Regions from separate parts of the Homo sapiens genome. Here all the other regions are linked to region 1. The links come from fine-mapping of genetic effects on gene expression. A gene starts in region 1. Each other region holds a variant in brackets. All regions are shown on one strand. Distances are between the middles of the regions.

The links.
Region 2: its variant is fine-mapped to the expression of TRPC6 in blood mononuclear cells (TOPMed, PIP 0.97).
Region 3: its variant is fine-mapped to the expression of TRPC6 in unexposed skin (GTEx, PIP above 0.99). The same link has a PIP of 0.9 or more in sun-exposed skin.

The regions. Positions count from the first base shown.
Region 1 is chr11:101,579,249-101,587,588 of GRCh38, forward strand. TRPC6 (transient receptor potential cation channel subfamily C member 6) reads right to left here and starts at 4,759. Exons shown (of 13, transcript NM_004621.6): 1 at 4,086-4,759. The coding sequence starts at 4,255.
Region 2 is chr11:101,548,114-101,556,457 of GRCh38, forward strand. The region is part of intron 1 of TRPC6 (transient receptor potential cation channel subfamily C member 6); the gene reads right to left. Among named protein-coding and RNA genes, the nearest start is that of TRPC6, 32 kb to the right of the region's middle. The variant A/G (reference allele first, on the strand shown) is at 4,933.
Region 3 is chr11:101,715,092-101,723,435 of GRCh38, forward strand. No RefSeq gene overlaps it. Among named protein-coding and RNA genes, the nearest start is that of TRPC6, 140 kb to the left of the region's middle. The variant G/A (reference allele first, on the strand shown) is at 5,101.

The sequences.
Region 1 (8,340 bases):
TAGATGTTCTATTTGTCCTTTTCTTTAAAAATGTCATTTTTTTCTTAAGGTTTGATTTATTCTTTTATATTGTCAACATTTATATGTACTTTTAAAGATTCTTTTTCATGTGGTTGTATTATCTCAACTTTTTAAAAAATCCACTAACTACTGCATGTCTTATATCTACTCACTCATGGTCGATTGAGTCCATGGTCCACTGACTCTCACTCTTGGTCGATTGTTTCCTTGTGTGTTTTGTTATTCATTATAGCAAGCATATCTTTAGCAGGACTTGCTTTCTTCTTGAAAAGCCTAGGCAATCTAGATGCTTGATACTAGTCTTTCATAATGATTTTGTGTTTTACTCTTATAGGAACCTCAGGAGTATTTTCCATGTTGACTATTTCTAGGCTAGTTAGGTAGGGTATAAAAACAAAAACCCCAAAAACGATATTCTCAAGGGGAGTGTTCTTTTCTTCTTACTGTTAAAGTTTCCTGTTCTCACTGTATGCTGGTGGGCATATATTTCTAGCCTACATTTTTATTTAATGGCTTTATGCAGGGCACAGGGGTATCTCAGTTCCAGCTCTCTGCCTCATCTGGCACCAAGAGTTTACCTTCTTTCTGTCTCATATGGACATCAGATTCCAGGCTTCTTCGTCACTGGGACGCATAACTCACAGGGCAACCACATCATCACTTCACAATCTATACTCGCTTTTAATGTCTTTGTTCTTAGCACATGGTAGATTACCCTTTTATTTTTCACAAAATTGGGAGATGTTTTAAAATCATTTAAAATCTTTTATCCAGTACTGCCAGGTGTCTGTAACCATAAATTTTTCAGATTGTCTCAGTCAGCTGAATTGCCAGTGCTTTAGTTTACAGTTTACTGTTTCATTATTCATAATCAATCAATTACTCCTTCCCAAGCAGAAAGTTTAGTTGGACTGTGTTTTCAGATCCTGAGATTTTAGAAATGCTTAACTTTTTTAAATGTCTGGGATTCTTCCCCAAGTTCAGCAGTGATGAACTGTAAACATACCTTTAAAGTTCTAAATAAAGGAAATCTGAAATGCCTCCTGGGACCTTGGCAGGACATGGGCCTTTCTTGCTAATCACCATTACAAATTGATCACAATAGAGAATATTAATTGATTTGCTATTGAAAGTTGAATAAAGAGAAAATCTGAGCCATTTTCTTCTGAACACCATTTCAATTTATTACTATTTTAACTATTAAGGCCTTATTTAACTATTAAGGCCTTATTGCACATAATTGCTCACAAATAAGATAATTTACCATAATTTTCAGTTTTACTACTGAAAACTGAAGCCCCATAAATATAAATAAAAACTGAAGCCCCATTACTACTGAAGCCCCATTACTACTGAAGCCCCATAAATATATGTAAAAAATTTTTCTAAATAAGAAAACTATGAAACAGAAATTTTTGGCAAGAGTCATAGAATTTATTCCACAGAAATGACAACTTACAAAGACTTGGGATCTTATAAGGGAAAATCTCAATGATTTGAGAAATGGCAATATTCATATCTAAAATGTACTAGTGATTGCCACTTTCAGAAATGATACACCTCCCACTATGAAATTGTATAAATCACAAGTCAAAAGCATATGGAAGAGTTGATTTCTACTCTACCAGAGGGAGTAATTTTCTTTAGCTCTTTCTCATACATCATAGGTGTGAAGTACTTTTGTTTCTTGGTTAAAATTTTTCTGTTAGTTGATTATTCAACTAGAAAAACTTAAAATCTTGTCAGAGAAAACAGTGGATGAAATGTAACTATAGAACCTTTTGGAAATAATAGATTCATATAAAACCAAACCCAAATTCTAGAGCATGGCTCACTCTTACATGTATTATAGTACCTCTGACATCACGCAGAGGGTGGATGTTATGAATTGAAGCACATTAAAATATTTCTGTTCATCACTCTGCTGCTCAGTTCTATTTATTAAGAATAGTCCAGGATTCTTGAACTAAGGGAATATTCACTAAATACTGCATGTTGAGGACAGCCTGGGTAACATAGTGAGAACTTGTAGCTAAAAAATGTAATAACAATAATTAGACAAATTAGGCAGTAAGCCACATTTGAAGAAAGCACTGGGAAGAGTTTTCAGGACAACTTGGAATTATTACTTTATTTAGTCTCTCTCACTACTGATATATAACCACAAGGTTTTTAATCAAATCATTTTTTGACAGACACAGCGACAAGTGATTATATGGATTACAGAATGAAAAAAGGTTTTGTTCATGGAACAGTCTAATTTTTAAAAAGCCGTATAAATTTTTAGTCACCTAGTTTAGCCAGGAGGTAATGTTGCCAAACCTATAACCCTCAGACATCGGAGATCTCAAGTTTAACCAATAAAAATTCCATCTATGTCTTAAACTTACACCTTCAAAGTACATTTTAAAATAGCAGCATTTCAGAATATCCAAGATTTATTTATTTTTCTTTCTATTCTTGTTTTTTCTTGTCATATATCACCTTGCTATTCAGAGGGTGGTCCACGGACTAGCAACCTTGTCATCATCTGAGGGATGTCAGAAATGGAGAATCTTGGGCTGTACCTAAGACCTGCCTTCTCAAAATCTGCATTCTAACAAGATTTCCACATGATTTGCATGCTAGCCATTAAAGTTGGAAAAGTCTGTACTATGAGACATAAAAATATCTTCTAATTTAACACATCAAGTGTAAGATTTCTTTGAGGGATGATGAAATTGTCCTGGAATTAGATATTAGTGGTGGCTGTACAACTTTATGGATATATTAAAAATAGTGCATTGTACAAGTTAAATGGGGGAATTACGTGGTATGGGAATTATGTCTTGAACTTTTAAAAAGAAAAACATATACATAATTGTAAATGCTCTTAACTTGCACAGCACACAGATGAATGAAACCAGTTCTAACTATTCTCCTTTATCTTTGAGAAAAGTTAGATGCTCCCTTTACTGCGGCTCACCTCTTACTTCGAAAGGGCACCGCAGCAGGGCTTGAGGCTGGGCAGCCCTGACACAGCACCCATCTATCAGGAGGGTCTGCCAGGCGCCTATGGGGTGGAATCCTCCCTCCAACTAAAGCTGTTTATAGAGCTGAGAACCTCGGGAAACCGCTTGCGGGTGGATGTGACAAGTCAGGAAACTTGACTACCCAATCACCCAAAGGGGCAATGGGACAGAAATGCTATCTGCCCGCTGCACATGTGGTCACAGCGGTGTCGGGGAAGCGGAGTCTTTTCTTCTGGAGTCCACTCTGCTTACTCCCTACCTCCCCTCCCGCCACCCACCCAGCTAAAAAAAAAAATACCCTAGATTCATAAACAAAAGCTTGCAGTTACCCACAGCCCAATACAAACGACCCGACGCCCTCACTTCTATAGCCCGTGAGTCTCCCAGCCCCTAACAGGCTCGTCTCCCCAGACGCCCCGGGTGAAAAGGTTCGCGCCGCCGGTGGAGAGTCCTATTGGTTCTATTTCTGTCTTCACTCCAAGGCCCCAGGACCGGGGAGAGGTCCTGGTCTAACTTTGGCTGTCCCACGGTCCAAGGACCTCAGCGCTCAGCCCGAAACGCTAAGCCAAGCGTGGAGACCGCCGGGCGCACCCAGCACCCAGGCAGCTCCAACCCTTGGAGTTCTAGTCATCTCTCCCCCACATAGGCTAAGAGTCACCCGGGCGCACATCTGAATCAGCCCCCTGTTCAGATCCCGCCTGTTACGTAGCGATCCTGTCTCTTGTAGAGCGCAGGATGAAGGGGTCTGGAGAAATCGACCACCCATCTAATCACCTGCAATGGTGGTGTTACTATGCGGTCTCACTCTCGTGGGCAAACATATCCATGCGTACCTACGAGGAGCAAACCTAGACAACCCCGCCTCCCCCACTCCCCGCGCGCCCCTCCACTCACTCAGGTCCCAGCCCTGGCTCTCGCGGACCTCCCAGCACCGTCCTAGGAGGTACACACGCGGGTTCAGGACGCGCGCGGACGGACTCGGCCACTCCTGCGAGCGCACAACCTCCCTCCGCGCAGCCCGCGCCCGATCCGCCCCGCGTCGCCGGCACTCACAAGCAGGGGTAGTAGCCGTAGCAAGGCAGCGGGGCTTGCGGGCAGCCGTCTTCTCCCAGCTCCGAGTCCATGAGCAGATAGTCCTGGCTCTCGTTGCGCCGCGCAGCGGCTCCGGCAGCGCCCCGGGGAGAACTGCCCCTCCGGGGCCCGAACGCCGGGCTCTGGCTCATGGCGGGAACGCCCGACTGGCCTGGGCCCCGCTCCCGGGGGAGCCGAGTGGGCAGTTCCAGCGGGGACCCGGTGCGGAGGGTTCGCGTCAGCGGCCGAACTGGACCTGGGCAGACCGGTGCCCAGGGGACGACGGTGAAGCAGGGGGTGCAGACGCCCGCCGCAAGTGGCTCGCCCACTGGCCCGGGGAAAAGTCACCACTTAAGGGGGTGCAAAGAGGATCTTGACCTGAGCAGGTCAGGCCGAGGAGACCCCGCGAGGATGCGTCTGGGGCGCCCGGGCAGAGAGGGCACAGGCGGGGCCGCTGGTGGTAGCGAAGCGTAAGAGCGGAGAGCAAGGGAGACGGAGCTGAAGAGTTACTATGTCAACAGAGACTCTCCAGCCCTCAGCTCCCGCCTTCATCCCCCGCACTCTCCGTCAAGATCCCCACCTTTAAAGGGATCCGAGCGACGTTCTAGAAAGCAGCCAAAGCCTGTCCTGTAGCCACAACTTTCAGGAGGCGGTATGAGCCTGAACTAGGAGGAGCCAGGCACGCACTCTTTTTTTCCCCTCCACTATTTAGTTGGCTCATTTAGTAAGGATACCAACTGCGGACTTCGTAGGAAGCTTCCTTTAAGAACCACTCTCAAAGAGCCAAGGAAACCTGTTCCTTAAAAGGGACACGAGCCTCTTCTTTCTCCAGACTGCCTTCATTTTCTTTGGTCATTTTCTCTCTTACCCTCAACTCATAAAGTTATTATGACTCTGCTTTAAAAATGAACAACGTTCTATGTTCCAAACGCCAGATGTTCCCAGTTCCTGAGAAAACCAACAAAAATAGGCAAGCATTTTCCAATGATACCGATAAAGAGGCCAACAACCTGCTTACTTCAGAGAAAAAATTTTCCTTCCGTCACTGCGAATGCAAGAATGATTTCTCTGCCAGATGTTTCCCACGTTTCCAAGCTGTTTTATTTTTAAGACTTAGTTTTAAATTCTGATTAATATGCATACGTGTGAGAAGTAAAAACTTGTCAACAAGGATGAATCAGTATTTGTAGACCTTTAAGCAGTAGTAGCCAATTAAGAATCCATTCATTAAGTCAACAAATATTTAATGAATGCCAACTGCGTTTCAAATCATTTCAGAATTCGGAGGCAAAGAAGCAGATGAGGCACCTGTCTGCCCTCATAGAGCTTTCGTGGCAGAAAGGGGGACCAATTAAATAAGCAAATGAAAAAATATCAAGGACAAATGCTACAATGAAAATAAAACAGGTTGATGTGATGGCAGCTGGTGAATGACTACTTCAGATGAGATGGTTAAAAGAGGCCCCTCCAAGGAGGTGCTCGTTAAGTTGAGACATGCATGGCAAGCAGCCAGCCATGAAAAGATCAGAGGCCCATTGCAATTGGATGAAAGAAAGCCAGACTGAAATCTGTCTGCAAAGGTGCCTTTGCTTCCCATGAACAGGTGGACAACAAAATGAATGTTGGAAGTGTGGGAAAATGCAATTGATTTGATAGAAGGGAAAAGAGCTCACACATTTAGAAACTTCTGAGTTTGCCTTTAAATTTAGAACTGAAACTCAGAGAGAGCAGAAACCACTGTGTCCTGAGGATCCAGCTTCGTATTTGACACAGGTGTGTAGGGTGCATGCATGCATGCTTGGGTGGGTGAGTGGGTGGGTGGGTGGATGGATGGATGGATGGACGGATGGATGGATGGATGGATGGAAGGAATATAGAAAAAATAAGAAAATGCTCTTGGCCCTGGAAAGAACATTTTCCCTGGGGAAACAAACAACCTGCATCATTCTGAAGTCTGTTCTTTCTGATTTAACAGCCTTCCTTTTTGATCTTTCAACATGTGGAGCCATGATTTAAAATTCTTATAATTTTCTAGTTACTATACCTAGCAATAAGATATTCTTCCTAAAATTTGTTTGTGGCAACTGCTATCTGTAAGTATTCATTAGCTTTGATGCTTGAATGAATTAATCAATAAACGTTTAGTTAAACAGTGCCAAGGTAATCTCTTTGGCAACACCAAGTATGGGGAAAACATTCATGGGAAAAGTAATATTCAAAGGTTTTCTACCCAATTCAAATTCTGTGAGTTAAAGCCAAATTAATAAACATTTGTAGTGTCAGTTGAAGTGTTAACCTTTCACATAAAAAGAAAAAAAACAAAAACTGAGACAGAATTTATTTTGCTGTTGTTACACTGTTTTTCATTCACAGGTAACAACCTTCACACTGAAAAAATTACTACAGTAAACTTATTCTGACATCAATTTATCATGTGGTAAGACATGTTTTCCTCTGTTTTTTTTTTTTTTTTTGAATTATTGTGAGTACTAGAACAACAAGCCCAGTCATTTATTGAGTACCCAGAAGGAATAAGGTGGTGTACAAATGTTAGAAGATTCTGAAAGAGCTTATGACATGATGAAGTGGAATCATTAGATCAGAAGTCTCAAAGCCTGGATTTTTATTTCGGCCACTTCCCTAACTGAAGTTACATGATTTCAGAGAGGTCATTAAATCTCTCTCTGCCTCAGTTTTTTCATCAGTAAGCTGGTATACAATTACGCCTCAATCTCTAACTTCCCACATTATATAGTTATCTATGCAGTTTTATCACTTTACATTAAAAACATGGTGAAACCAATTTTTAAAAAGACAAAATACGATTAAATAATATAATTTTTGAATCAACTATGGAAGTATTGAGTAGATCTGGAGTCATGAAGAAAGCTGAGTGAACAAAGAAACAATAGTTTTTAAAGTTAAAAAATTGTTGGGTGAGCACAGGACTGATAGTTCTCACAGAGTTGGAAATTGCTATGCAATTATAGGTTATGTATGTTTATGTAGTATGTTCATGCTATTGAAATAAAAAAACACTCAGTCATTAATTCTGAGATGTGAGGATGAAGGTGAGTTATGTGTCTCTGTGGGCAGAGGAAGAGATGTTAATGAGAGAGGACCTTTGCCTCATTATATATATCTGCACTGTTTGATTATTAGTTTGATTTTACAAAAACAGATATTTTACATATATACATGTGTGTAATATATATAATGTGTATATATATTATACATATAATATATATATAACACAGTGTTTTGAAAAGCTGATAGGAGAAAAATGAGTAAAGAAAAATGGTTGTCCTCTAGAACAGTGGTCCCCAACTTTTTTGGCACCAGGGACTAGTTTCGTGGAAGACAATTTTTCCACGGACCTGTGGGGTGGGATGGATGGTTTGGAGACTATTTAAGTACATTAAATTTATTGTGCACTTTATTTCTATTATAATTACATTGTTTTATATATAATGAAATAATTATACAACTTACCATAATGTAGACTTGATAGGATCCCTGAGCTTGTTTTCCTGCAACTAGATGGTCCCATCTGGGGGTGATGGGAGACAGTGACAGATCATCAGGCATTAGATTCTTACAAGGAGCACACAACCTAGATTGCTCACATGCACAGTTCACAATAGGGTTCATGCTCCTAGGAGAATCTCATGCCTCCGCTGATCTCACAGGAGGCAAAGCTCAGGCGGTAACGCAAGTGATGGGAAAAAGCTGTAAATACTAAATACAGGTGAAGCTTCGCTGGCTTGCCCACTGCTCACCTCCTGCTGTGTGGCCCAGATCCTAATAGGCCACAGATGGATAGCAGTCCATAGCCTGGGGGTTGGGAACCGCTGCTCTAGGAAGTCTCAGGCAAGGAGCCCAAAGGGAAAGGAAAAGAAATTGCCACTAGAAGCAAAAGGTTGAGAAAACATTAAATGCTTAATAACTCAAGAAGCTCAAAAGTTACACAAAGCTGCAGTTTGTGAGTTGCTGTTGCTGATGGAAAACCACTAACATAGGAGTCTCTCTGGAAAATGCAGTTTGGGGTTGGTTGGCCAGAAGTACAGATAAAAGTTTAGTCGTGATTTCATCTGGATATTTTAAAGCATGGAAACCCTGAGCCCTGACTCCTATCACATGTAGAATCAACCGGGTGAAAACAGAAACACTTCAGAAGCTTCAGAGGGGCTGCTGATTCTCTATGAATGAAAGTGCCCTGCAAACTCCAGTTTGAGTA
Region 2 (8,344 bases), 31 kb before region 1:
GCACCAACTATAATCTAAGAGAACTTCAACAAATAAGGTTTTCTAAAATATTCTCTCTTTTCACTTCTTGAACTGTATGCCAGGCATTTAAAATTTATCATCTCATTTAATCTTCCCAACAGCCTAAGAACTAGATCATATATATATACATATATATATAATTTATATATATAATTATATATAATTGAAATACAATATAATATATAATTATATATAATTGAAATACAATATATAATTATATAATTATATCTTATAATTATAATATATAAATATATTATGTATAATATATAATTATATAAAATATATTTAATATATAAATATATAATACATAATTATATATACTGATATATATATATATATATATCTCTCTCTCTCTCTCTGTCTCTCACAGATGAGGAAAGTGAGGTTGAAAGAGGTTAAGTAGCTTATCCAAAGAGGTGTCAAGCCATTTAACCAAAGTAAGAATCCAATTCTATTTTTTAATTGACACCAGTTCTCTGTGATAGCAAAGCTCGTACCATTCTCACTTCAAGAGATGCTGCATCCGTAAACAATCATGCTTATTTATAAAAAAGAAAACTGAGATGAAATGATTATTTAAAACTTTTAAGAACATTTCCACACAATGAAATATAGTGCAGCTCTCAGAAAGAATGCAATAAATCTATATTTGCTAAAATGCAAGATTTTACAAAATACATATACTATTGAGTGAAAAAAATCATGGTGTAGAAGAGTATGAAGATATCATATAATTTTGCTTTGTCAAAAAATATATACGGTTACATATGCATTGACAAGTTCTGAAAGAGTGTGCAAGGAAATGTCAGTGGGTAACTCTGGGGGTAGTACCAAGGGTAGGGTTCATGCAGAGAGACTGACATTTTCCCTTTGTATCCTTCTGTTTTTTTTTGATGTTTCATGTTCAAATATCACTTTTTAAAATTAAAGACAATCCAATTTTTAAAAAGATTGTGAGATGTACAGATCAGAACAAAGGCCTACTAATGGGAGGAGCTGAATATTAGAAATGCCTGCTTTAATCACCTGAAGTGATTTAAGAGCAAGTGAAGTACAAAATCAAACACTTTTGTAAGTTGAACAGAACTCAAAACCTAGAAATACATCTAACTTATTCACTAGGTTGATTTTAAAAAGGGATATATTATAAAATTTAAAAAATAGTTATTGAAACAATGTGAGGATGGTCAGCTATATGAAAAATAATTATTTATATCCACACCTCATATTACGCCATAAAGCAAAACAAACATGTGAATAAAACATTTATACATGTTTTATTTAGCTAGCTAAATAAAAACAAATCCAAGAAAATAGCAAAAAGGCAAGTCAACATTTATCAGATCTTATACTGGTAGTTACCAACTTTGATGAGTTACAAGAGGCTATAATAAAAAGAAATATTTAAATGTTTATGATAAAATCATTTCAATAAAAAGTGGCAGAGAGAAAAACATATTGAATAAGGGAGAAAAGAGGAGTTATGTTTAAAATTGAGAGAAAAACTGACAGAGAAAAAAGGGATAAAAAAGAAAACTTGTATGCAAAATGGAATATTTCAAAATAAATAATAAAAATATAAAAACACAAATGAAAAAATGTCAAAAAATAAATAAAATAAAATAAAATTGAGAAAGAACTATTATGGCCCTAATAGATAAATAGGTAAATTTCATGTAAATATAATACAATTTTTAAAATATAATTAATAAAGCAATACTTAGAAAAATATTTAGTCAATGAATAGACAAATAAGTGCAAATTAAAAACAATATGAGGTACTGTTTTTTCCATACTGAGTTAGCAGTATAAAGAATGATATCAAAAGTATACAAGACTGATACCAAATTATAACCTCCCTTTTTTCTGATGACACAGAAAGTGGAACAGTCTTTTTGGAAATTATAGTCTAAGACTCATGAAAATAATTCTATTCAGTTTTTGTGCTTTGGAAATTATTACTGATAAAATTTAGTCTAAAAAGAATCTAAATTTTTTTAAGATGTTTTTTGCAACATTATAAGAATAAAAATTTAGAATCAACTTACATATGCCCAACAATTACAAAATCATCATGTAATTAATTCCTCAACAAAAAGTTCCTTGATAGAATTTTATCTGCCTTTTATCATAATTATTATGAAGAATACATATTACACATATGAAAACACAAGTATGATGTTACATTAAATTAAAAAAGACGCAAGGATATAAGCTATGGATGTAAAATCATGCATATATATGGATAGGTATAAGAACATAACTGAGAGAAATATAATTTGATTTGTTAGAGTGCAGATTTATTGATACTTTTTTCTTAATTTTAATTTTATTTCTGCTAACGCTATTATGCAAATATTTGTTCAACTGATAATAATAATTTTCATAACCTTAAAACACACAGTAGTGTTTTTAAGCAACAGAACTAAAGAAAAAATAATTTCAACAGCAAAATCTGTAACATTTGTCATAAGCACTAATAAATAAGGATAAAGGGCAATTGAATAACAATATTATTCTTTATATATAAATGTTTCCTAAGGCCTTTGTAGTCTGATACATTATAAAACACAAACAGATTAAGTAAAAAATACACACAACATGGAGAGTATGTGGTATAACCTCACTGGACTGGAAAAATGTGTTCTTATCAAATGTAGTACTTTGAAATATTGCATATTTATATATTTCATTTTTATTTTAAAAATAATATATGTGCTTAACTATACATTCATTGAGCTCACCTAATATCATTGTGATATAAAAGATGATTCCCATAGTTTATTAGATCATGGTATTTAAAGTAAATTGAACCATGTGATTGAATAATGAAATATTTAATTTTGGTGCTACAATGACCAAAATTAAAATAATCTTTTCATTAAGAGCAACTATATGACTACAAATACGTACGTACATAGGACAAAGTGGTCAGTATCCATAGTCTAGTTTGCTTAGAGAAAATGCTTCTGTACTTTAGGAATCAGAAAATAGTTTCTCCATATAAGAGCATATCTTCAAGTCAACATCCTTCTATAAATAAATAGTTCAATTTCAAACTTCCTGGAAATGAGTATTTAACATTTAATCATTAAATACAGTCAGTGAAACTATTAAATGAATTCAAAGGACTAAATGAATATTATGAACTGGCAGTTATTAACTGCAACCATAAAGTATTAAAGAATAAACAGTATTGATGGCCAATCTGGAGTGACAATCTTAGTAACAAAATATTTTTATAAACTGTTTGTCAAAAAGAAGGCCAAAAAATACATCAGATTTGACCACTTAAAGTATTTTCTTTGTTGGCATAATTTCTCTTTTTAAAAAATAACTTAATACAAATTATTCTACTAAGAAATAACATTCTTTAGAAAAAAAAACTTGATTCACCAGTGCTTCATGAAATTGCTTTTCATTACTCTCTCATACAGTCATAAAGCTGCACATTTTTTCTGTAGTTCTAAACAAGGTTTAAATCAACTCCCCCCTCCCCCACCAACAAATTATCTCTGCCAATTAATGATTCAAAAACTTTCCTAAAATTCAATTATTTACAGATGGGTCTAGAGTTTCTACACATATTGTGTGCAAAGCAATGTTTGCCCTTTGATCCAAACTATATTTTCAAGGACATCTCTAAAGCAAACAAACAGCATTGGAAGATAGAATGTCTCCCACCAGAGCCTCAGGGCTGTCATGGTTATTGCTCATTACAAAAGATTTAGGTTCTCTAAGCTCAGAGATCCTTTCTGTAACACAACTCACTGTTAGTGCAGGTACCATCCCATCCTTTTGTGTCTCCTTGTAGAAACTGGGGCTTGGGGAACTGATACAAAAATAAGAATACACTAGCTCCTGTTATTGCTATGATTAAAGGTTGTCCAACTTTGGCCCAGGAGGTTTGTGTCTTTTATCGGCATCCATGAAACTATGGCGGGCCATCTTGTAAGTTTGCAAGTAAAAATCTCAGACCCTTCACAGTTCTTTACACCAATAAGATCATATACTTGATGCACCCTTTATAAGTTATTTTCAGAACTTAGAAACTTAGTTTTCTTTTGTTAAGTGAAGCCAGGGCCATTCACTGCACATTTTCCACTGGGCAGCAGGTCACCTCTAGCTGTAAGAAACAAGAAAGATGACGAAGAGGAGAAATCAACGTAACCCATGTTTGAAACACACAGTGGCCTATATTTGAAAACATAATAACAAAGCCACATGAGGCTGGCTTTTCTAATCATCCAAAATTACTTGGCTCTAAATATTTTCATCACCTTCTGTCTCAGCAGTTTATATGTCAAGAAACAAAATGGTCCAGAAAGTATTTGTACCAAATAATAAAGCTTTAGTCAATCCATTCTGACACAAGGCAAACTAAGGAGGTGAGTCAGAAAGTTCAAGTTTTGCTCTTCAGACATCTTTCTTCTGTTTAGGTTTGTTTATTTGTTGCCCAAATCAAAAAGTGAACACTGGTTTATGATCCAACAACAAATCCTACAAGAAGTTTAGTCTTAGCTATTAGATTATCCATTAAAAAAAATTCTCCATCTAATTAAGATGATAAATGTCTCAAACTCTGCATAGTTCCTCTATAATTCCTACATTATTATTTTTCAATTGGTACTAAATATACATCTTATAGCCGCTCAGGATCAGGTCTAATTCTGGGTTCTGGTTAGTGTTTGGAATAACATGAGTAAATGATATGGCATAAATATAAATGATAGTGACAAACACTGTCAAACTTTATCCAGTGTGGTTTTTCTGTTTCAAGTGGCAGAAATTAAGTGAAAATATCATAACCAATAAATGTTTATTCTTTTATCAGATAACGGCTGAGAAATATGTGGTATTTGGCTAATGTGAAAAGAGAAGCTTCCTTAAAGTCTGGGTTTGCAGAAATTC[A/G]GGAAGTAGAGTATTAATGGGAAGTAAGATAGGGTGAGGTAGAGTATTAATGGGAAGTAAGATAGGTGATGTAATCAAAGAATCAGTGCCAGTCCCCTCTTTCTTCATCTGATTCAAGATCGTGAACCTGAGCCAGCTCTGATAAATGTAATAATTCTAGACAGTGAAGTTTACCATTGAAACACTGAAGTTGACTGCAGAAACCAAATGCTGTTCTAAGCTAACTCTTTCCTGTAACCTATCCCATCTCTGCCTACTCTGATACCAGCCTTATTTTTTTTTAATTTTTCTTTTGTTTCCTCCTGACTAGGCTTTGTAACCCTCTCACTGAACCTTTATCACAGCTGGTATTCTATTTCAAACTGGATAAACAAAAGAATAATTGAGATGAAACCATAGGCTAAATGCAAATATCTCCCGGCCTATTAACTCCTATTGCGTTCCTCACCTATCGCATCAGCCCCTCTTGGATGCCAATGTTAGTTTAAAGCAAGTAATGTTAGTCCCGTGCCTTTGGACATTATACTCTAGATTGCTGATCAGTACTTTAGAATCCACCCAGGTTGTGTTTCTAATAGTTTCCAGCTTTCCTCCCTCTCAACCAGCTCACCTACTGAGAACTTAGCATACACTGGATCACATTCACTAAGAATTATAATATATTCTAGCACACATGTATGGATAAGCTCCTCTATTTTATTCACATCTCTTTTGGCTCCCATAGCTACTTTTAGAAGAGTAAGTGCACTCATACATCATTCTCTCCACAAAAAGATTCTTAAGATTTATCGTGTCCCAGATACCAAGCTCAGTAATAGGGTATATGTAAAGGAAAATGAGACAATTGAAAGAAAAAATTAAGTCCCTGCTCTATACTAGATGCCGTTGTAAGTGTTCATAGTTCTGTGGGGAAAATGTTTATGTGAACACATTTCACACATGCTTTAAATGCTATGCTAGAGGTATGTGCAATGCACATGGAAATACAGAAATAGACACACTGGACTCTGCATCAGTTGAAGCTGAATTCACTGGCCGGTGACTTTTAAAGAACACGTGGTCAGATGCAAAATGGTTCTATAAATAAAGAGGAAGGAGAAATCAGTGCTCCAGGCAGACAGACCAGTATATTCAGTGAAATGGATGTGTGAGACAGTATATTCTATACTGTGTCTCTTCAATAGGAAGAACTGAAAATGAAAATTGTTCCTTTTCACTTCTGCTTTTTATTAAGAGGCCAGTAGTAGAGAAGCTGGAACAACAAAAGAAAGTTTTAGATTTGCATATAAACTTTTGTTTACATTTATGTTATGCTTGGTATGTTAACTGGGCATCTAAGCTTATTTCAAAGTAGAGCAATAGTAAAAAAAAAAAATTAACCTGTTAAGAGAATAAACAGTGGCCTGATTATGTTGGAATCCTTAATGTTTCCCATGTTTGCATGAATGTATGTATAAAACATATATATAAATTGGGAATATGGTGGGTTTTCCTGGTTTCAGTGTGAGACACTGACCTCTACAGTATCCTTCAGTGCCCTGGCCAGTTTCAGGTGGTGGTTGCCCAGTGCCAGGCAATGGGAAGAATCAAGTTATAAGCCTCACTATATTTCTTTCCCTGCATCACCCAAAAAGTGAGGAAAAAATTTTAAAAAACAAAGATGAAAAATAACCAATCAACAAAATTCTTTATTAACTAAAAGTTAATGAAAGTTATTGTAAACTCCAGCCTAAGAAAGATAGCAGCTGATCTTCTTTCAAAGCTGAATAACACCCTTAATCAATCCCAGCCCTATTTCCTTGCCCTAGCTTGTCCTCCCACTGGGTGTAGGCACATCACCCGCTTGACTCCCTTCCCTCTCTGTCCTCTCTAAGTTTGTCTTGCTCTCTATGCCTGAGTCTTAAAACAGGCCACAAAGATGCCACTCCATGGGTTAAAGTTGTTCTGGGTTCCATTAGTGTTTGCTCTTTCTTCTTACCTAGGTAATTTCAGTGCTATGACACTGCGGTCTGATAGTCACTGAGCCCTCACTCTGTGGTAGGCTAAGAGACACTGCCATGAGAAGGAGAGTTTCAGGCTTTGGGAGCTCATCCTCTTGTGAAGTGTACATTCACTAGATGATTATACAACTAAATCTCTTTTTGATGAAATCAGGCTTCACCTATTATTCAAAGGCAGGATGTTTTAGGCTTGGTGTCAACGGGTCATGGAACATACGAGGACTCCACATTATTTCTTCCGTTCCAAAGGCTGTACCTTTCTTTTCAACTTTGCCACATGGCATCCTACTCTTTCACCATTCTGCAATGGACTTCTATTATTTAACAACGACCACCAAAAGGCTTCCTTTTCCTGTCTAGGAAGGGTCCTGGGTACTCAATGTATTTGCTCATGACCTGAGCTTCGTAAGTGGTTGAGCTGATATATTCTGCTCATAGTTATCGATGTGAGTCATCTGCTTTTCCGCATCCTGGTATGAATACCCCTGAGCATGCAGTGTGACCTAAGGACATATGAAGTTATGGATAAACATATTTCATCTTTTTGGAAGAAAGGATGGTAGAAAAACAACTTTATTTTTAGATGAACATGGGAACATTATGTAAGAGAATGCAAACTTTTAATGTAAAACAGATGTCAAAGAATATTTGTGTTTATGGTGGACTGTACCAGATTTCTATGAGAACTAGTCATTTTTTTTCTGTAGTCAGGAACAGAAAATGTGGAGAATTTTATATAAATAAAATTTATTTACAAAACTTGAAGAACAGTGCACACAAACATTCTTCAAGACAGATCACTTGTTAGGGCACGAAATACACCTCAGCAAATTTCAAAAGACTGAAATTACAGAAATCAGTAACAGGGGGACTTTGGAAAAATTTGCCAATACACGGATATTGAACAGCATGCTCCTGAGCAACCAATGGGTGAATGGAAGATTAAAAGGGGGATTTTTTAAATGTCTTGAGGCAAATGAAAGTGGAAACACAATATACCAAAACTTACAGAATGCAGCAAAAGCAGTTCTAAGAGCAAAGCTTATAGCAATAAACACCTATTTCAAAAAAGAAGAAAGATCTCAAATTAACAACCTAATATTATACCTCAATGAAACAGAAAAAATAAACTAAGCCCATAGTTAGCAGAAGGGAGCAAATAATAAACATTAGAGCAGAAATAAATGAAATAGAGACTAGGGAAACAATCCAAAAGATCAACAAATGAAGAGTATGTTTTTTGAAAAGAAAAAATCAACAAACCTTTAGTTGGGCTCACTAAGAAAAAAAAATAGAGATAATTCAAATAAAATCAGAAATAAAAAGGAGACATTAAAACTGATACCACAGAAATACAAAAGCTCATGAGAGATTACTAGAAACAATTATATGCCAACAAATTGGATAACCTA
Region 3 (8,344 bases), 140 kb after region 1:
AAAAGAACACATCTAATATTGAACCCTTGCTCATCCTACAGTTCTTAAATAGCAGATCTTGAACTAACTATATCTCTGAAAAAGAGAGCACTACAGTGCTCTTTGCCCTGCTTGGGAAATACGTTCATGTCAAAGGAACAATTTCTGCCATAAAGTTGTGCTTTCATATAAAAATGTATTATTTCCACCTTTAAAATGGCTAGAATCAAAAAGCTACATAACAAATGTTAGTGAAAATGAAGTGAAATCAGAACCCTCACACACCACTAATGGAATGTGAAATGTTACAGACACTTAGGCAAACAGTCAGTTTCTCAAACAGTTAAACACAGACTTACCACATGACCTGCCAGTTGTATCTTAGGTAATATACCCAACAGAAATGAAAACATATATCCACAGAGAAACGTTTATACATGTTTATAGCAACATTATTCATACTAGCCAAAGATGGAAATAACCTCTATCAACTGACAAACTGATAACAAAATGTAGTATAGTCATAAAAAGGAATGAAATGTTGAGACATGCTACAACATGAATGAACCTCAAAAACCTTACACTAAGTGAAAGAGTTAGAAAAAACTATATGTTATATGATTTTATCCATATGAAAGTCCAGAACAGGGAAATCTAAAGCAACAGAAAGTAGATTAGATATTTCTTAGGACTAGGAGGTGGGGCCAATGGGGGAGCATAGGGGCAGTAACTAAAGAGTAAGGGGTTTCTTTATGAGGTAATAAAAATATTCTAAACATTGACTGTGGTGATAATATCACATATGTGTGAATGTGCAAAACATGAATTGTGCACTTTAAATGAGTGAATTTTGGCTGGGTGTGGTGGCTCACACCTGTAATCCCAGCACTTTGGGAGGCTGAGGTAGGCGGATCACCTGAGGTCAGGAGTTCGAGACCAGCCTGGCCAACATAGTGAAACCCCATCTTTACTAAAAATACAAAATTAGCCAGGTGTGGTGGCACATGCCTGTAATTCCAGCTACTGGGGAGGATGAGGCCGAAGAATTCCTTGAACCCGGGAGGTGGAGGTTGCAGTGAGCTGAGATCACGCCACTGGACTCCAGCCTGGGCAACAAGAGTAAAACTCTGACTCAAAAAAAAAACAAAAAACAAAAAAAGAGTGAATTTTACAGTATGTGAATTATATCACAATGAAACTGTTTTTAAGATGCATTATTTACAACCTCATAATGGCCACTAGAAAATGGGGCTAAAGTACATAATAGCAGTATAACATTGTAAGCAGTATGGTCTAATAATGTTTTGTCTAGACATAGCAACCAGCTAATCCAATACCTCAGCCAATCACAGGTCTTCCGAATATCCCAAGCTTAAATGACCCATAAGATGTTAGGAGCGTGTAGATTCGGGCACTAAATAATAAATAATATGGGTGCCAGTAGTGGCCTATGTGATCTCATATTCATTCCTCTCCCTTCTCTTCTACTCTGCGTCATAGAGGTCACCCCTTCAGGCCCTATTTTACAGGCATCCAACTGGGTTTGTGCACTAGGAGGCACTGTCAGGAGACTGTAGGTTGGAAGGAAAGAAGAAACCAGGGTACTTGTTGCCTTCCCCCTCTGACTTAGTCTGTGTCCACTGTGTAGCTCCAGCTCCCAGTAGTTAGACTGCAGTGGTTCCAGTGCTGGCTGCCAAACCCTGTCCTTGGGCCTCCAAAACATCCTTCTTCAGCCAAGCAGTGATAGCAGCTCCTGCTTTTGCTAATTTCTGAGTTGCTTCAATATATCTTTTATAACTTCTTTGTTACACACCTGGGTAACTAATGCTTTATTCCATTCTCTTGGTTTAAATGTGTAATGGTGATTTGTGTTTTTCTGGTTGAACCCAACAAAGCTTGATTCACTGTTTCACAAGTATAATAATGGTATAATAGTTCAGTTTATCTCTGATTATCTTTCTGTCCACTGTTTCTAGCCTACAGAATCAAAGCACTTTATGAGATAATTATATTTCACTATTGTGGCATTCAGAGCAACTTCAATTTGTTCAATTTAATATGAAAAGAGAACTGATATAAAGAACATTAATAAAATTTGAACCATGAAACAAAAAAATAATGTTTTAGAAAGTAATGATTGGAGTTATTTTCAGAAAATTCACAATCTAAAATCATAGGAAAACAGCCTTCCACTCTATATTCAGTCAGATGGTAGGGATATATGAAGAAGAATTAAAAATCATTATGCTAAACATCTATAAAATATCAAACATTGATGTTAAGAAAGCTCTCCCTAAAGACAATGGAGTTGATTCTCAAAAATATCAGTGAGCTAATAAATTCTTTAAGATATACATTTTAAGCACAGTCATAAAAGTAAAAAATTGAAATGAATTTATGATCTAAATTTTAATCATCTAACTACAAATAAAACTCAATAATAAATTAAGAATCACTATTTGTAAAGATAGAGACTCAAAACCACAGTTTTCCAGGGCAAAATACATGGCAGAAGCAATGTCATTAAACAAGATTAAGTAAGAGATACCAAGGCAAGTTTAAGTACATTAACACTTATAATGAGTGCAGTTTATACTCAATGCCTTTTATAATCAGTTTATTTGACAGACATTATTGAAGCACCATGCCATGCTAGGGACAAAGCAAAACACTAAGAATGCAAAGATGAATAGGACATGGTGTTTGCCCTCAAGAAATTGTGTGTAACTAGGAAGACAAACACATGAATGACTATAAGACAATGCGATGAAAGTTGTGACACATTCCCAACAAAATGCATTGTGGGAATACAGATGAGGGAGCAAGCAATTCATCCTGCCTAGACCAGTCAGGGAAAGCTGCTGAAGAGAGGGGACTTTAGAGTTTGTTTATTCTTGGATTCATTAATTAGGCCAAAATCATTCCAGCCTGAGGAAAGAAGATGAGCTAAAGCAGAATGAAATGAAATTGTATCCTGTGTTTGGGAAACTGTCTAATGTGTTTAAAGTCTAATGTGTTTTAGGAAAAAATAATAGGAAATAAGTCAGAAAGGTAGGCAGGAGATAGACAATAAAGAGCGTTTCCTGAACATGCAAATAGATGTGGACACTGTTCTGTGCCACTGCTGTACAAACTTGCATCAGAGGATGGACTTCAGGATATAAGCTAAATTATAATCTTTAAGTGGTTGGAGATTATTACCAGTAATAATTAGACAATAAAAGTGTTCATTTCTTAGTCATATATGTACCTATTTATGAGTTAATGTTAAGTGAGTAATAAAAGCCTTCTGTACAAAGCTCAAACTAATAAAGCATAGTGGAACTAAATTTGGACTCTGAAAATTTAGAGCCAAGGTTGCTAATTACTATATGAATAACCATGAGCAAGTGATTTACAGTCCCTGAACTTCACTCCTCACGTATACAGTACAGACATATTGTCTGTTCTTTCTATCTCACAGGATCGTTGCAACAGTCTAATGTAGTTGTACTCATGAAAGGGTTTTGCAAAACACTTGTGATGTATTGCTATTGTGAGGCAAAATTTCCATTTAACGTCTTCAGTAGATGAGTCATAATAGCGAAAGAACATGACATGCATAAAAATGCAAACACACACTCAAATACTTACACATAGAATTTCACATATTTCACAAATATCACAAACAAGAAGAACTCTGCTCAGTGGACACAAAATTTTGAAAAAGTTCATGCTAGATCCTTGTACTGTACCTGGTACATGGTAACAGCTAATAAATATTTGTGGATACATGAATAAGTGAATTCATGTTGCAACTATTTTAGGACATGATTTTATTAAGTCTCCAAAACTAAGGAGGAAATCCAATAGCTAAGCCACCAAGAAACACCTTCAAATGTTGAAGATGTTCCCCAACGTAACCTCCAGGGAAAGACTTCAGTCTACTACCCCTCTGCACCTGGGACTCCTGTACCTACTTGCGCTTCTGACAGGCCTCATATTATTCAGTCTTTTATCCCACCATCTTTTAGGGAGTAACCTACCCTGTGGCAGCAACCGTCCTAGCTACGGGGAAAGTACTTGCTCTCATTATAAGGTACTTGCTCTCATTATAGTCTCATTACAGTCTAGTTGGGAATGCAGACAAGTAAACAAAGGACCATAGTAAAGTCTACCATGTAGACCAGTCACTATGTAGTCCATACCCTTTGGACATGCTTCAGGTGACTTACAGCTGCCTAACCCTAACCCCTAGGCATAATCTGCATCTCTGGGCCTGATTGCTTTACTCTGACCCACACAAGTCTGCTCTGCCCAAAGAACAGTAATCCCCTCAAATCTGAGAAGCAGCACCTTCCAGACACTCTTAATTTATACACAAGTGCTGGTATATAAATATTTCAGCTCCCTCCCACCTTGGGTAGTTTAATTCTGAGTTGCGTGTTTCATGCCAATTCCTAAAAGTTTTCTGGTAGGATTTAAGATCAACTGTCCCACTGTGGTTAATCATACACCCTTTTGTGTCTGATTTCTCTTCCTTGTGTCACTGCCCCTCTCCCTGCCAGTGTTCCACGCACATCCCAAATAAACTACTTATACTTGAATCCTTGTCTCAGGGGTTTGCTTTTGGGAAAGTACACGTGAAAAAAAGAAGTCCCTAAAATGGAAGCATGCACAAGGCATCACAGATGAAAATGAAATTGTCTAAATAAAAGACATAATTATCAAGGAAGACTTCTTAAAGAAGGTAACATGGGCCGGGCGCGGTGGCTCACGCCTGTAATCCCAGCACTTCGGGAGGCCGAGGCGGGCGGATCACGAGGTCAGGAGATCGAGACCATCCCGGCTAAAAAACGGTGAAACCCCGTCTCTACTAAAAATACAAAAAAAAAAATTAGCCGGGCGTAGTGGCGGGCGCCTGTAGTCCCAGCTACTTGGGAGGCTGAGGCAGGAGAATGGCGTGAACCCGGGAGGCGGAGCTTGCAGTGAGCCGAGATCCCGCCACTGCACTCCAGCCTGGGCGACAGAGCGAGACTCCGTCTCAAAAAAAAAAAAAAAAAAAAAAAGAAGGTAACATGAGCAAGCCTTGAAGACATTGGCCTGGCAGAGAATGTGGGTTGAGTGCACCCAGGTAGACCA[G/A]AAAGCACATGAGAAGGTATTAAATTATGAAACAGCATGTTGTATTTGGAGAACTAAAAGTTGCTTCTGTGACTAGAGGGAAGTGTGACTGTCCTTGATGAAATGGCAGACAATGAAGCTAGAGAGGTAGACAGAGGCCACCTCATGAATTATCTTGTGGGCTAAGCCCAGGAGTCTGGGTTTTATCTTGAAATACAAGAAAGGCAGAGACACGGAAGGATTTGTAAGGATAGGAGTCACACAATTGAATTTGTATTTGAGAAAGATTACTTTGGCAGCCATGTAGAAGTGAGATTAGAAGAAAAACACGTGGAAGCAGGAAAACCAAGAGAATACTTTCAAGAATTCTCATGAAAGAAATTGATGAGAAAGTTGAAAATATGGGATTTGGTGAAAGTGTGACGTAAGTTTCAATCCTGGTTTCATCGGATAACAGCTATATGACCTTGGGAGAATTATTTTACTTAATTGAGCCTTAGTTTATTCCTAGGTAGCATTAGAATGATATTACTTTCCTTCAGTGTTTTAAGAAGACTAAATAAGAATGTATGTGAGAAGTCTAGCACAGTTCCTGGCAAACCACAGCTCTCATTTGCTGAGAACCATTATTATTAAGGCACTGAGATTGATGCTGAAGAACACTGAACAACTATGAGAGATTCCTGATAGCATTTACCAATTAAATGAATATGGATTGTGAGTTCAAGATGACTCACAATTTGCAGGTTTTTGTTTTGGGTGATGGAACGAGTGGTGGGATAATTCGGCAAGGTAGAAGAGAGCTAGGTTTTGAACATATATTACCTCGGTTACTCAGGTGAACAGAAGATAAACAGATATTGAGCAAAAAAGAGGGGCCAGAGCTGGGGATATTGACTCAAGAGTCATCAGTGCTCTGGTGGCTAGTGAAGTCCTACATGTGGAGGAGTCAGGGCTGGGGAAGAGGGAGGCTTGGAGAATATGACCTTTAGAAGGTGAAAGAAGAAAGAGCAGCTTGAAATACAGGCCCCCGCTGTCGACTCTTGCCCTGGAAAATGTAATACCTATTCAGTTGGAGAAAAGTTCCGCAGTTTCACATGTGAGGGAGGGACAAGACATCAGATTTGAACTTCACCTAAAGAAAAAGGAGACAGGAGCTCAGATCTGAAAGAAGCTGTTTGGATAGAAACACTTATTTGTCTGACTCTCTATAACATGAATCATAACCCAAATCGGGTCAACAGAACAGGCCATGTTCCAGACAGGAAAACAAATAGTGCTAGGAAGCACTCCACATTAATTCAGTTCCCTCGTTCTTCACTGGGCGCTGCAGGCAGGCAGGCACATGTTCGCTCTATGAAAGGACTTTCTAAAGGTATGATTCATTAAGAGTGGATGGACTGCCTTTGAAGTTACTGGGCCCTTAGTCCTCAGAAAAATTAGTTAGAAACTGATTTTTTTCTCAGAGCGGTTTGTGAAGGTGCTGTGTTCACTAATTAGGAGTGAGATTATAAGAATGCAAGATACCTTAAAATCTTTTCTATTGGAATAAATTTGCAACCTCATGGAATAATTTATTTCAATAACTCCAAATTAATCTTTCTTAATGACCTTGAAAATGTTGGCTTAATGTTACTGTAGCCCAGTGACTTTTCAAGGGAATGATGCTTCCTCCTAGTGGGGGGCATTTTGGAAACATGTACGAGTGTTTCTGCATGTCACAAAGGTTGGAAAGACACTATTGGTTTTTAGTGATCAGGTGCAATGGATGTGAGAAGTCTCTGAAAAATAATTCAAGTGATTACAAAATGTGTTAAATCATATGATTTTGTATAAAAACTTGTCATACCAGCTTCAAAAGAGATTAGTGCAATAATGAAAAAATTTCAATAAATTATCTTTTCTATGCCATTGAACAATGGTGAAATTTCAAGAAAAATAAATGATTTGGTAAAAGTTGCCAAAAGCAACTGAAAATGAGTTGCAATCAACTGAGTTTTCATTTCAATAGGATGAACATGTTCTGTGGAATAACAGTCTTACTATACACATATGTTGATTCTTTCCAGTGAAATGAAGAAGTTACTGAGATAATGCTATTTTCAAAATTACTGGAAATGAATACAAAAGAGTCATCAAAAATTAGATGCTTGAAACCACTATAATTGCTTCAGAGAAAAAAATCTTTTTCTAATGCCTTTACATTAGAAAACCTTGGAATGTCATCAACATTTAGCAATGTGCATGTATAGTCAACTTTTTTAAAGTAGCACTAAGTTCTTTAGAAATTCATCATATTGTTCTTTGGCCACATTTGGTCACCAAGTATCTTGGTAGAAAGCTCCACAAATCACTGAGTGCTGTTCAGTGCTATTAATACAATTAAGAGTTATCTCCGAAACTATGCAATAACAATGAAGAAGAGTTTGAATGTTCCATCCTAAACAGAGAAGATGATGGCTTTTTAAAGGAAACTATTTAAAAATATTTTGTTTGCCATTTGATACTATTAAGTTTTCATTCAAACAGTGAAAAATTAAATATTAAAAATTGAAATAGTATGACATGATATACACCTTTCATATATATTTGAAAAGCTAATAAGGGTCTTATTAAGATGCAAAGATCAAATCAATATCAAAAAGTGATGAGAATTATTATGAGACTTAAGCATAGACATTATTACTTTGGACAGAGAGCATTTTCGAGTTTCTATTTTTACAGCAGCTAGATAAGAATACCTTTAAAGAAACATATTTGAAAATATATTGCTCTTGCAATGGACTGCATGTTTGTGTTCCTCCACAACTCATATGAAATCTTAACTCCCAATGTGATAGTATTAGCAAGGGGAGCCTTTGGGAGGTGATTAGGCCATGAGCATGGAACCCTCATGAATGGGATTAGTACCCTTATAAGAAGCACCCCAGAGAATTCTCATACTCTTTTTCTACCATGTGAGGACATGAACAGAAGAGAGCAGTCTGCAATCCAGAAGAAGACCCTCACCAAATTCTGCTGTGCTGGCACTCCGATCTCTTCCACCCTCCAGGACTGTGAGTAATACATTTCTATTGTTTATAAGCCCCTCAATCTGTGGTACTTCATTATAGCAGCCTGAAGGGACTAAGGCAGCTCTCACATGGATGTTTTTATGAAAGATCATTATTTACTCTGTCACCTAATGACAGATATAGTCTCTCCTACTATATAGGGACCCAGCCAGTATAAATATATGCACATTCAAATTGAGTGATATAAGGAA